2 separate regions of the Homo sapiens genome follow, and region 2 is linked to region 1. Evidence: fine-mapped expression QTL. A gene starts in region 1. The other region holds a variant in brackets. All regions are shown on one strand. Distances are from middle to middle.

What was found. PIP is the estimated chance that this variant, and not a neighbour inherited with it, causes the effect. A credible set is the group of variants that fine-mapping cannot tell apart.
Region 2: its variant is the best candidate, but not a certain one, in a credible set for the expression of TEX26-AS1 in aorta (GTEx, PIP 0.74).

What each region holds. Positions count from the first base shown.
Region 1 is chr13:30,930,802-30,935,192 of GRCh38, reverse strand. It overlaps TEX26-AS1 (TEX26 antisense RNA 1), which reads left to right and starts at 2,585. Exons shown (of 4, transcript NR_038287.1): 1 at 2,585-3,947; 2 at 4,319-4,391. TEX26 (testis expressed 26) reads right to left here and starts at 2,537. Exons shown (of 7, transcript NM_152325.3): 1 at 2,417-2,537. The coding sequence starts at 2,477.
Region 2 is chr13:30,897,041-30,901,431 of GRCh38, reverse strand. All of the region lies in intron 2 of TEX26-AS1 (TEX26 antisense RNA 1), which reads left to right. Among named protein-coding and RNA genes, the nearest start is that of MEDAG, 7.0 kb to the left of the region's middle. The variant TA/A (reference allele first, on the strand shown) is at 2,027.

The DNA.
Region 1 (4,391 bases):
CCAGTGGAGAGAGGCCAGGCAGTGGGAGCAGATACCCTTTAGCCTGCAGGGATGTGGGTGGGGTATTGCCTGGCAGTGGGATCAGATACCCCTGAGCCTGCAGGGATGGATGGGTGAAGGGTGTCCTTCCTGGGGAGTCCAAGGGTGCAGGCTGCAGAGATGCCCAGGTCCTGTGCCTGGGAGGGCAGCTGCAGCTGCACCAGGGAGCTCTTGCCCCACCAACTTGGAAGAGGCAAAGCTCCCACTTGTCCCTGGCTCCTGCCTGCTTCATGGAGTGAAAGGCCCAGGTCTGCAGCCGTGGGTTCCACAGGGAGGCTCAGAGGCACAGGGAGGCTCAGACCCACAGCCGCAGTTTGGGTGGCTGTAGCCTCGCCCAGGACTGCAGGGCTCCTGCTTGCTCCATAGAGCAGGAGGCCTGGGTCTGTAGCTGCAGTTTGGGCGGCTGTAGCGGCACAGGGAGCTCCCATCCCAACTCAGAAGGGGCAGCTCCCACGGGCTCCATGGAGTGTTGCAGCCCCAGCTGTGCTTCCCTGCTGCAGCCAGCATGATGGCAGCAGCCACTGCCATCACTAGCAGTGCCGATGGCTACCTGAAGCTGGAAGACGTAAGGACCACTTCTCCCCTAGGGCCTGTAGAGGGAGTGCAGACTTGTCCAGACCTTGATTTCAGGCTCTCGACCTTCAGAGCTGTGAGCAAATACATTTTTGTTGTTTGAATCCACCAGTCTGTGGGAACACATAGCAGCCACAGGAAACTAATACAACACCTGAGAGCCCCATCTGTAGTAATTATTCAATAACAGTTAGTCATCAGTCACCATCAACCTCATCCTATTTCGGACCAAACCTGGGCAGTGGGGACACATCAAGCCTACCATTTGGAGGGTGACTCTCCCAGCAGTGGGGAATGAAGTGGCACAGAGTAGCCATTAGAGGCCCAAGCCTGGAGGTAAAGGGGCGAATTCACCTGGGGGAAAAAGAGCTTTGGAGGCAGAATCAAAGAGACCTGGTGATCAAACTGCAGTCTCAAGGAAGCTGCCTTCCCTTCTAAATTGAGCAGCTAGGACCCTCTTAACTGAACTCTCAAAGTCTGGAAGGTTTGAGGAGGACAAGGAGTGTGATTTTGCACATGTCAAGTTGGAGGCCCTGCTGTGACACCCACATGGAACTGTCTGGTAGACAGTTAGATATTCTGGTCTGAAAAAGTAGGAAGAAAGTCCAAGTCAGAGATAAAGGTTAGAGAGTTGTTGGCACCTTTATGCAGCACTTGAAGCCCTGTGCAGGATATGGTCACAAAGAGAAGGTAAGCCTAGAAGGATCAATCCTGGGGGACTCCAACAGTTCCCAGACAAGAAGGGGATGAAATGGGGAGACAGTGGGAAAACAGGGTGGTTAGAAAGGGAAGAGAAGCATCCAAAGGGGTGCTGTCGGGATGCTAGGAGGGGATCCTCCCTCCTCTGTCTCTCCTGTTTGCCTTCCCATCATATAGAAACTGAGTGTATTAGATATTTTCTGCACTAATTAAGTATTTTCATTTTCCATTCTTAATTTACAACGGAATGAATTGGAATGAAAATATGCATTTCATTCACTCTTTTGGGAGCACAATTCTAGGGAATTTGTACTTGAACAATCCTTCACTGCTCCATAGCCACTGTGGAATCACAGTTACCCAACTATACAGCAGCAATGGCCAATTATTGCCACAAGAGACTATGATGGAGCTGACTACACGGTAATCATGCCACTAGCGTCACAGCTAGAGTGGTTCTCCCTCCACAGACCCAAAAGGCTGAACTGGTGAACCTGCTGCATCTGTGGGCAGAATTAGGATGAAAAGCACTACCTCTGTGAAATACAAAATCTCTGTGGAAGAAAAATCAATTCAGGTTAGAGGCGGCAGCTGAAGGCCATGGCTCCCAGCCTGGTGCGACAGCCCAGGGAGGGCGTCTGCCTCTGCAGACACAGCTGGGACTCCATTCAGCAGCCAACCCTTCCCCCACTTTCCTTGCTGTTTCCAAGATCCTATATGGGGATCGGGACTCAGGCAGGACCTGTTCTCTTCAGAGCTTCCAGGACTTCTCTTTCTTCTTTGCCTTTGGCCCTGTTTTCCTTGGAAAATCACCAGTTCTTCCTTTTTTCCTGTCCCCTCTTAGCCAGGCACTTCCTCGAGTGTTTAAAAACCCTGCGCGTTTTAGGGAGCGGGGATTTGGCAAAGGTTATGCGAAGGACTGAAAAGGGGCAGCGTCATGAAGGCCCTGTCATTCTCCCTGACTCCCCGTCTTTTCCTCAGTTGAGCATACTCCTAAGAGCGATGCCACACCCTTAAATACTAAGGCCCCTTTTTCTCAACAGGACCCTTTCCCCGGGAAAGACCCCAGCCCCGCCCCGCAGACCGGCAGAGTCTGCTGTCTTACTTGGCTGGAGGTTGTGGTGGCAGAGAGAGGGATCCGGAGCCCTGGGCCCAGGCTGTTCCATTCTGCCCCAGGAGGCGGCCGCGGGGCCCTGGCTCCAGCTATCTCAGCGCTTGCGGGAGCCGCGGGCTGCTTTGTGACGCGTCGCCATGGAGACAAGGATCGGGTTCCAGGGAGTTCTGCCCCTGCCAAGGGGTGCTGGCCACGCAGGAGGCTTAACCTGGCCGGCGCGGGAATGGGGTGCAGAGAGCAAAGAAATGTGGCTTTGATCTTATGGATGCCTTACTTTTACATTATTTGTACAGTTCTTGCAGTGAGCTTTCCGGACCACTGTCTTGTATGTTTCCTAAGAAAAGCAAAAAGGGAAGAGATTGAAGAGAAAGTAGATTTTCAACTACAAACTTTCATCCATTTGCTTTCAGCTTAAGCAAATGTGCGCAAAGTTGTCATGGATTTTTGCAGTCAATAAAAACCAAGCAAGAAGACTGAATCCCAAGTCATCTGGTATAAATGGAAGCAGTTTCTGTGATAGTTCCACGCGGTCAGAAGGGTCATCCTGGCTTAGGAGAGGGGCAGAAGAGGAAATGCACGCGTGGAAACAGGAGTGGGCAGGGAGGATGTGACACTGTCCTCCTCACCAGGCCACGTTCCTGGCACCAACCATAGTGTTTGTGAGGGTCAATTTAATTGTTCTTGTGCTCTCATAGAGGAAGCTGTGTCTTTCATCCCCTTGTAAGAGTTTTCACTGATGAAGGGGGTCTTTTATCTTCATATCTTGGGAACTACTGAAACTGTTTCAAAGAGTCAAAGACACCAATAACTAACAGAAATTCTTGTTTTCAGGGGCAGATAAGAAAAGAAACAATTTGCTGAAACTCCCTCTGCTTATAACAAAACTGACTGAAATCAGCCGGAATCAATATGGCCAAATGCAGTTTGCGCACAGCAAGCTTGCTGATGTCACAGCCTGAATTTCTACTGCATGTTTCATACCAACTCCCTCCAAATTTGCACATGGGACCCACCAGGAAGCATGAAGAGAGAGCCATGCATGCCTGAAGACTTCCCAGATGTTCCCTTTGCTTCCACCAATCACCTGCTAACCCCAGGATCCAACCCTAAACCTTTTGTAATAAAATTACTGCCCTAAAGCCAGTACAAGACAGATTTGAACTGGACTTTTGTTTCCTCAGAAGTTAACTTGCAATGTGAAGCTTTCCTTTTCTCAAAAACTTGGTGTCATAGTGTTGGCTTCTAGTGCAGTGAGCCCCTTTTGCTGGATAACCTTACCTGGTAATTTGACATACTAGGTGGTTAGTAACTACTGACTGTCTCCAGGTTACAACACAGTTATTACCCACTTGGGTGAAAAGAGAAGACAGGAAATACATTTTGGAGTTGGCTGGCAACCTGTTTACAAAGCAATTTACAACAGTTCCTTATTCTTAAGGGGCTATTCTAATACAAGACCTCAGAGAAACAGTGCAGTGTGACAAAGGAGGAATTTATCAAAGGAGACAGAAAAAGCATCAAGGTAAGGATCCCAAATATATGTGCAAGGAATGTCTTTAAAATGAAGAGCTAAACTAGAATTTCCTGAAGGTAGAGTTCTATCCATATAATGGAATGAATATAACACATTATAAACTCTCATGTTTTGAAGCAATGGAGGGTGGAACACATTAGAAGGCATAGATGTTATTAAAAGGAATGAGTCTAAATTAGGATTTAGTAGTGGCATCTAAATTTAAAAAGTAGCACCCAATAACAGATTACTGTCTGGAAATGGTAGAGCTAATTAGCATAGCATAATTTAAGAGAAATATATGTTTAAAATAGAGCAGCAAGTATATAGAATTTTGAAAGTGAATTCTTATTAATATCTTACAATTTGTCTCATTTTAGGCAAGCTGTGAAATGGTGCGGTAGGAACCAAATAGAGAGCCAAAGGATCTTTCTGTCACTGCAGGCCCTTAGG
Region 2 (4,391 bases), 34 kb after region 1:
TGTCATCTTGAGCAAGTTTCCTAAACTCTCCTGTCGTTCATTTTCTCATTTTTAAAATTAGGGTAATAGAGGGAGAGGCAGGATAGCAACACCGTTAAGAGCTCAGACTTTGGTACCTTGTCACCTGGGTTGGAATCTTGAATCTAGCCTGCAGTCTTGAACACATTACTCCTATGTGTTTCAGTTTCCTCATATGTGAAGTGTGAGGTTTGTAAGGATTTGATGTGTTATGGCAAAGAATTGTCTGACACATAGTAAGTGCAATGTAAGTGTTTGTTTGATGCCTACATCAGGGGACTTCTGTAAGAGTACAATGAGTTGACCGCCCACTCACAGCATCTAGCTCAGTGCCCGGTTCTCGAGTAATAGTGTCAGCTCCCTGTCTTCTCCCACTCTTTCTCCCTCATTTCAGGCCACTCATTTTCCTGAACTGCAGAGTTCTGTCCTTGTCCACCTTTCCTGGATGACTTTGTCCAAATCTTTGGCTCTGATGACCACTTACAAGCTGATGATGTCTGAATCTCTAGCTCCAGGCCAGATTTCTTGTCAGGCTCTCTGACCAATCTACACAACTTCCTGCTAACCTCTCCACATGATTTCCCCCTGGCACCTGCAACTCATCGTCTTCCTCCTGCCCAATGTGCTGTTTCTCCTGTGTTTCTCATCCCAGGGAGGCATCACTATCCCTCCATCCAGCGCTGTGAGGGCATCCTAGACTGCACCCTCTCACTTCCTCCCTCCACCCCTACGCTCTTCTGCTGTTCCTCCACCCCAGTCCTCCTAGCCAACTGGGTGCCTCCACCCACTGACTCTGCCTTCTACAAATCTCAGGAATCTCTTGGTTCCTTCCCACCCCCACTGCCATTGATTTTGCTTAGCTTTCTGCCACTTTTTCTCAGTACTATCTCAGTAGCCTTCATACCAGTCTCCTCTCTCCCAATCCCTCCTACCCACGTCCCCCTAGCAATTCATATACTGAAGTCCTAACACCCAGCACCATAGGATGTGACTGTATTTGGAGATAGTTTAGAAAATTCACTCAGGTCAAATGAGGTCATAAGGGTGGGACTTCAATCCCATAGGACTGGCACCCATATAAGAAGAGAACAGCTCCAGAGTTTGTGGGCATACAGAGGAAAGACCACATGAGGATACAGCAGGTGGCAGCCATCTACAAACCAGGGAGAGAGCCCTCATCGGAAACTGAACTTGCATCTTGCTCTGGTTTGAATGTGTCAAACCAATTCAAAGCAAAGTCCGTGGATTGGAGACTTAATCCCCAAGGCAACAGTGTTGGGAAGTGAGGTCTAATAAGAGGTGATTAGGTCCTGAGGGCACTGCCTCATGCAGGGATTAATGTCATTATCTCAGGAGCCGGTTTGTTATGGACAGTGGGTTATAAAAGTGAGTCTGGTTCTCTCTGATCCTTTCACCTTTTGCCACAGGAGGACACAGCAAGAAGCCTCTCCCAGATGCTGGCACCTTGATCTTGGACTTCTCAGCCTCTGGAACTGTGAGGCAAATACATTTCTGTTCTTTATAAGTTACCCAGTTGGTGGTATTCTGTTATCACAGCATAAACAGACTAAGACACAAAGTTGGTGGCACTTTGTGATGGCTGCCCAAGCTGTCTAAGCCCCTTCCTCATGCTCAGATACACAGCCTTTGCTTAAGGCTGTGGAAGATGGCTTGCAGCTCCCTGAGGGTGCAGCTGGCTTTCCCTTGATGCTGTGGACAAGCTGTTCCTGCCACACAGCTTCCTACTGTCTTCACAGCCCCTCACTCATCTTTTAAGACCCAGTTTCAACATCACCTACTCAAGGCTAATTTTGGTGTCCTTCCTCCTTGTCCCATAGGACAAATGATACATATTGTGTGTCCCCTTACCACATCCTGTACTATAAGTGTTGTGTTATTGATTTACTTGTCTGTCTCACCCTCTAAGCCCAAGAGAAAAGAAAACAGCATCTTATGCCTTTTTATTCCTGGTACAATGTGGTTTCACAGAAGATATCATATTTATTTT[TA/A]TTGAATGAATGAATAAATGAATGGAAAGCAGCATTGAGTCATGGTTATATATAAAGTTCTGAGAACAGTGCCTGGCATAAATAAGCACTATTGAGTGTTTGTTAAATAAATGAACAAAATATATCTGAACATGTCTCAGATCATTTCTTCTGCAATTGTAACTGTAAAAAGTCTTGTGAAAGCTAAAGTAGGAACATATGGGAAAATAAAAGCCCAGATTTGCAGAGATCCACTCATGCAAATACGTTCAAATTCGAAGTTATTGCATTGATTCCTGACAACTTTAGTCATGGCTAAACTAGAATGGAAAATTTTACTTCCTTCCCTCTGCTTACCTCATTGGGCTCTGCCTGTGTTATTCTCTGAGTTCACTGCTTCCTGTCTTCCCAAACAAACACTCACTTCTGGTGGCAGAGTTCACACAGAAGCTTTCCCAGGCCAGTCAGTTGATCCTGGTTACGTATGTGCTTTTGCACTTTGGTTAAACCTCTTTAATTGCTGGTAGGGTGCTCAGTGCTGTGGGGCACTGGGGCAAATGTAGGTTAGGACATTGCAGCAGCTGGGACCATCCGGTACATGGAGCGTCTGGAGGAGGCGCAAGTGACTTTGGAGAAGAGTGAGTCTGTTAATGTGAACCACGTGTGGGAACCAGGGTACCACTCAATTCTACAAACACTGATGGAATGCTGGCATGGGCTAGGAGTGTGGGACTCCAAGATGCCTAAGACCTGTTCCCTGTCTCCAGGGGCCTCAAGTCAAGCCAGCTACTAGTGGTCAATAAGTGTTGGAGGAGGAGATGGAGGACCTAGGAGGCGGACACGAGCACAGCCAGTTATGTAGGAGAAAGTAAGGATGGAGGGTCTCTAAGCCTAAGAACAGGAGTGTTGGTTAGGTACAGGACACAACTGAGGGCTCATCTAGAACTTTTAATGGGGTTGGATGCAGTTGAAATCACATTTGAGAGGGTATGTTGCAAAGACTTTAAAATTTTCTGTATGCTGTGATGTTTTGGCATTTTAAAAAACCTTTCTGGTTGGTGAGAGATGGCCCCTCCTGGATCTGGCCAATTCTTAGAGAAAGGACTCAGACTGAAGCATGTCTTTGATATGCAAACTAACCAGTGCAGTGCCAGACCTCCTGTATCTGGCCAGTGCATCCCAGGAGGCAGTATTCCTCTGCCTACATCATCCCAGGACCAGGTGCCAGCAACAGAGACCCCTCTTTGTAGCCAAAAGCCTGCCAGAATTATTCAATCTAGCCCATCCAAAACCATTCACCCTGCCCTGCCTTGCCTTTCCCCAGAAACCCCAACAAAGGTTATGGCTTAAATCTCCCCCTCATCCTATCTTCTGCGAGCTCCACCCTGGTGTCTTTCTCATATGGACCAACACAGTGTGTGTGCCCCTTGTCCCTAGGACCTGTGAGTATAATCGGCTTCTTTTTTCCCTGAGCCTCTCCTGCATCTCCTCTTGTGGTTGCACCTGACTATCTTATAAGAGACTAAAAAACCGAGGGATGGCTCTTAGTAACGGTGTCTACAGATAAGATTGGCTTTAGAAAGGGGGTTTCACTAGAAGACCCATCCAACTCTAAAGATTCACACCCTAAAATGGGCAGATTCGGAAAGTCAAGGGGTGAACCCAGGGAATCCCGTAGTATTGTCAAAATTATTGCTGCTCCTGGAACAAAGGGCCAAATTGTTCCTTGGATTTCATGTCTTTCTCCACCCCACTGACAAACAGCATCAACCACAACAACCATAATGAGAATGGCTGACATTTAGTGAAGATTTCCCCATGTCAGACACTGTTCTAAGTGCCTTCAATGGATGATTTTATCTACTCCTCCAAACTATGAACTATTTATATTCCCATTTTATAGAAGGGGAAAAAGAGGCACACGGAGTGCCAGTGACTTGTAACTTGCCCAGCCATACAGCTGATGCAGTGAAGAAGCACTTTTTATAAACCCCTTCCTACCCAAGGCAGCTGAGCTGACAAGATGGAAAAGATGAAAAGCTTCACTCTTCACATCTCTCTGGACTATAGAACAGGAGTGGGAAAAGTATGGTCCACCAGCCAAGTCCAGCCTGCTGCCTATTTTTGTATGACCATGATTAAGAATGTTTTTTCATTTGTATAGAGATTGCACTGAATCTGTAGCTCATTTTGGGTAGTATTGTTAAATAGTTGAAAAAAAACAAAAGAAGAGTAATAATTTTGTGACATGCAAAAATAATACAAAGTAAGCTCACATTTCAAAGTCTTTAAATAAAGTTTTATTGAAACACAGCCACATCCATTTGTTTACATATGGCTGCTTCCATGCTACATAAGCAGAGCTAAGCAGTTGCAACAGAGACT